Regions from separate parts of the Homo sapiens genome. Here region 2 is linked to region 1. Evidence: fine-mapped expression QTL. Tissue or cell type: whole blood. Region 1 holds a variant in brackets; the other region holds the start of a gene. All regions are shown on one strand. Distances are between the middles of the regions.

What was found. PIP is the estimated chance that this variant, and not a neighbour inherited with it, causes the effect.
Region 2: it holds the start of NNT, and the variant in region 1 is fine-mapped to the expression of NNT in whole blood (TOPMed, PIP above 0.99). The same link has a PIP of 0.9 or more in T cells, fibroblasts, lung, lymphoblastoid cells, macrophages and monocytes.

The regions. Positions count from the first base shown.
Region 1 is chr5:43,823,133-43,825,890 of GRCh38, reverse strand. No RefSeq gene overlaps it. Among named protein-coding and RNA genes, the nearest start is that of NNT-AS1, 220 kb to the right of the region's middle. The variant T/C (reference allele first, on the strand shown) is at 1,316.
Region 2 is chr5:43,602,211-43,604,710 of GRCh38, reverse strand. It overlaps NNT (nicotinamide nucleotide transhydrogenase), which reads right to left and starts at 1,531. Exons shown (of 22, transcript NM_182977.3): 1 at 1,417-1,531. NNT-AS1 (NNT antisense RNA 1) reads left to right here and starts at 1,481. Exons shown (of 3, transcript NR_073113.1): 1 at 1,481-1,933. RefSeq lists silencers at 1,271-1,490, 1,611-1,700, 1,964-2,183.

The DNA of each region.
Region 1 (2,758 bases):
GGAATTCAAATTGTCCTGTTTTGCTGACGATATGATCTTATCTAGAAAAATCTTAAGACTCCAACAAAAAAACTGCTAGATTTGATAAATAAGTTCATTAAAGTTGTAGGATACAAAATCAATAAAGAATAATCAGTAGTGCTTCTATACACCAATAATGAACTTATTGAGAAAGAAACTAAGAAAGCAATCCTATTTACAATAACTACAAAAAATAAAATACTTAGGAATAAATTTAACCAAGGAGATGAAAGATCTCTACAAGGAAATCTATGAAACACTAAGTAAAGAAACTTAGGAAGATACAAACAAATTGGAAGACATCCCATGTTCAGGAATTAGAAGAATATCATTAAAATGACCATAGTGCTGAAAGTAATCTACATGTTCAATGCCACCTCTATCAAAAATATAAATGTCATTTTTCACAGAATCAGAAAAAAAAAATTCATTCATATGGAACCAAAAAAGGGCCAGAATAGTCCCTCTCCCTCTCCCTCTCCCTCTCCCTCCCCCTCCCCCTCCCCCTACCCTTTGCACGGTCTCCCTCTGATGCCCAGCCGAGGCTGGACTGTACTGCTGCCATCTCGACTCACTGCAACCTCCCTGCCTGATTCTCTTGCCTCAGCCTGCCAAGTGCCTGGGATTGCAGGGGCACACCGCCACACCTGACTGGTTTTCTTTTTTTTGGTGGAGACAGGGTTTTGCTGTGCTGGCCAGGCTGGTCTCCAGCTCCTGACTGCAAGTGATCTGACAGCCTTGGCCTCCCGAGGTGCTGGGATTGCAGACGGAGTCTCGCTCACTCAGTGCTCAATGTTGCCCAGGCTGGAGTGCAGTGGTGTGATCTCGGCTCGCTACAACCTCCACCTCCCAGCCGCCTGCCTTGGCCTCCCAAAGTGCCGAGATTGCAGCCTCTGCCCGGCCGCCACCCCATCTAGGAAGTGAGGAGCGTCTCTGCCTGGCCGCTCATCGTCTGGGATGTGAGGAACCCCTCCGCCCGGCTGCCCAGTCTGGGAAGTGAGGAGTGCCTCTTCCCGGCCGTCATCCCATCTAGGAAGTGAGGAGCGTCTCTGCCCGGCCGCCCATCGTCTGGGATGTGGGGAGCACCTCTGGCCTGCCGCCCCATCTGAGATGTGAAGAGTGCCTCTGCCCGGCCGTGACCCTGTCTGGGAACTGAGGAGTGTCTCTGCCCTGCCACCACCCCGTCTGGGAGGTGAGGAGCGTCTCTGACCAGCCACCCCATCTGGGAAGTGAGGAGCCCCTCTGCCCAGCAGCCGCCCCATCTGGGAAATGAGGAGCATCTCTGCCCAGCAGC[T/C]GCCCCATCTGGGAGGTGGGGGGCAGCCCCCGCCCGGCCAGCCGCCCTGTCCGGGAAGTGGGGGGCAGCCCCCGCCCAGCCAGCCACCCCCTCTGGGAGGTGAGGGGTTGCCTCTGCCCGGCTGCCCCATCTGGGAAGTGAGGAGCCCCTCTGCCCGGCCGCCACCCCATCTGGGAGGTGTACCCAATAGCTCATTGAGAACATGATGACAATGGTGGTTTTGTCGAATAGAAAGGGGGGAAATGTGGGGAAAAGAAAGAGAGATTAGATTGTTACTGTGTCTGTGTAGAAAGAAGTAGACATAGGAGACTCCATTTTGTTCTGTACTAAGAAAAATTCTTCTGCCTTGGGATGCTGTTAATCTATAACCTTACCCCCAACCCCATGCTCTCTGAAACATGTGCTGTGTCCACTAAGGGTTAAATGGATTAAGGGCAGTGCAAGATGTGCTTTGTTAAACAGACGCTTGAAGGCAGCATACTCGTTAAGAGTCATCACCACTCCCTAATCTCAAGTACCCAGGGACACAAACACTGTGGAAGGCGGCAGGGCCCTCTGCCTAGGAAAACCAGAGACCTTTGTTCACATGTTTATCTGCTGAGCTTCCCTCCACTGTTGTCCTATGACCCTGCCAAATCCCCCTCTCCGAGAAACACCCAAGAACGATCAATAAATACTAAAAAAAAAAAAAAAAAAAAAAGAAAGAAAGAAAGAAAAAGAGCCAGAATAGCCAAAACCATTCTGAGCAAAAAGACCACAGCTGAAGGCATCATCTATCTCACTTCAAAATGTATTAGAAAGCTATAATAACAGGATTGTTAAGGATATAAAAACAGACACATAGACCAGTGAAACGGAATAATGACACCAGAATTAAATTCACTTATTTATAGCCAACTGATTTTCAATAAAGGTGCCAAGAACATACACTGGGGAAAGGAAATTCTTCAATAAATAGTTTTGGGAAAATTTGAAATTCACGATATGCATAAGAATAGACTGAACACCTATGTCTCCCCATACACAAAAATCATCTGAAGATGGATTAAAGACTTAAATGTAAGACCTGAAACAATAAAACTGCTAGAAAAAAAAATAAAGAGAAAAAACAAAACATCAGTCTAGGCAAAGATTTCATGGCTAAGACCTCAAAAGCACAGACAACCACAACAAATAGGCAAATAGGATTATATTAAACTAAAAAGCTTCTGCACAGCAAAAGAAACTATCAACAGAGTGAAGATACAACTTACAGAATGAGAGAAAAATATTTGCAAACTATTCATCTGAAAAGGGATTAATATCCAGCATATACAAGAAATTCAAACAACTCCTCCATTTAAAAAGAAATCCCATTAAAAAGTGGGCTAATGATATGAATAGACATTTCTCAAAATAATACATACAAATGGCCAACAGGTATATGAAAAAAATGTTCCACAT
Region 2 (2,500 bases), 220 kb after region 1:
AACAGAGCGAGACTTGAAAAAATAAAATAACAGCACCTACCTCTCAGGGTTGTTGCCAGGACTGAGAATATCCTTATCAGCTGTTATATTCACTTTGGTATTACTCTCCCCCAGTGCTTTGCACAACACAGAGGAAGTCAGTATTTTTGACTGAATGAATAGGGCTAGGTGACCTTAAGCCTAAGTACCTATTGAGCACATTTTCCAAGGATTTTCGGAAAATTTCCTTTGAAAAGGAAATGTTTGTGTAGCCTTGTGGAAAACTGATTCTATCACCAAGGTAAGCAGCCTAAGCGCACCTGCTGGAAAGAAGGCAATCCTAAACTGTCTGTTAATAAAAAGTCAAGGTTTACAAATAAAAGGGGTGCAATGAAGAAAAGGGGCACACTTTAAATAAGAAGAGTAGGTAGGCACCTAAGCCCCACGCGCTTCTCCGAATAAGTCTGTCCTACAAGACTCCTGACAAACAGACCACCTAAGGACTGGCCGGCGCCACAGGGTGAATAAAGGACACCGGCAACCATAAACAAGTCACGCTTTTAAAAGCGAGACATACCAGCAAGGACACAATACCCTACTGAGCCAGCTTCGGCTGGCAGGCGCCGTGACCTCACCCAAAGCCACTGGTGTCACGGCTACTGCCACCGGTGCCGTCCCTTGCTCGGCAACTAACTGCCACCCGCTGGCATCTGCACGAGACCGCTATTTATAACCTCCCTAGGAAGCCGATTGGCCACGGCTGCAAATAGTCATTCCGGCTGTTGAGTTTGAACTAGCTCTGCCCAGGTCGCCCTCTCCGCTGTCTCTTCCTCCTCACCAGCCTAGGCCCCAGAAACTTGTACCCACCACCGCCAGACCGCCCCAACTCACACTCACAATTTGTGCTCGCAATCTCCTATGTCCCCAGCCGGACACCCTCTCCGAACTCCCTCAAGGGTCAAGCATACCTCAAGGGCATCCAGCTGCCACCTCTCTGGATGAACCGCCCATCGAAAGTCCTCTATGACCTCCCTCTCCACCACCCCCGATCTTGAGGGCCGAAATGACCCCGTACGACTCTCGCTGTCCCCCAAAGCTGCAAATATCTGCACCTGCACAGCTGCCGCCTCATTCCCTGCCCTCTTCGGGGACCCAGTTCCCAAATCCACCAGCCCACTCCCTTCGACATCGCCCCAGCAGGAGACGAGAAAGGGACACCAAGAGGCACGGTGCTTCTTCCCCACCTAAGCCTGCGGCCTGCGGACACCCCAATGCACCCTGCGCCCGGGACACCGCCGACCCCGCCCCGCTTTGCTCTTTGACAGGTCTCTCTCCCGGCGAGGGCCGTGGTCTTCAGGAAAGGCCCGAGCCCCTTTCCCAGCTGCGCCCTAGGCGCGCGCCCCGGCTGCCCGCACCCGCCAGTGCCGTCGCGCTCACCTGGGCCGGGAGGCTGACAGCCTTGGGCTGTGCCCTGAGGGCCGCGAGAGGACGTCGCGCTGGCAGACCCGGGCTTGGGCCCCGCGGCGCTGCGCCTCCAACCCGGAAGAACAGCCCCAACTCCGCGGCGGCGGGCGGCCACGTGACTGCAGCTCCGCTCCCACCTCGGCCCGCGCCCCTTCCCCGCCCCAGCTTTCTTCCCGCCAGGCCCCCTCCACCCGATCGCCGCGCGCTCTCCGAACCAAAAGGCGACCTCACGAAATGCCCCTTTGAGCTCAAAGGCTAGTTACCCCCAGGGGCCCTTCCACTCTCGGGGACAGGCGAAACCTCTTTGTCTCTGCCTCGGCCTGCGGCCCCCAGCCCAGCCTCCGCGCTTTCCCTCCGCCAGTCCTTGTCAATCAAACCTGGTGCCAAACGCGGCAGCTGAAGTTTTCAGGGACACATTTGCTTCTCCCCTTGAAGAACCAGTTACAAAGCGTGATGTCCTCTCTGGGGTCCCATCAGAACAAAGAAACAGGTAATATAACTCCACTCCGGGTACCTGCCTTTCCTCCAGCTCGCTAGGAAAAATCAGAACTTCTGTAACAGAGAGGACCCAAGGGAAAGGGGCAGGCGGAGAGGGGTTGGTGAAGGGCGGGAATGGGGGGCGTTGATTTTCCATTCTGGCAGGAGAGGTGGAGTTAAATTCCTCAGAAACGATGTCCAGGCTTGAAAAGTAACACACATCTGCGTGCTTGTCTTCCAACATCAGAGCCAGCCTAGAGGAAGCTGGCTAGTGTCACTGCTAGTACGAATATCCCCGAGGCTGGAAAGCATCTGGGTGGAGGTTGTGAGCTTTCCAGACCAGGCCTCGGCTGTTTTTCTAAAACTATTAACCGTAATGACCTAGTCGTTCTTTTCACACAGTTCTGTTACTTATTCTGCAGGTGTATTCTGACTAAAAGTGGGAGGAATAAAAAATAGAGTGTAAAATGGTTCACTTGCCCAAAACTTAATCATCATGAAGTGTCAGTAACGTCATTTATTTCTATTAATTGAAATTTTGATACAAGAAAAATAATTATGAATCTAAAAGGTATAAGCA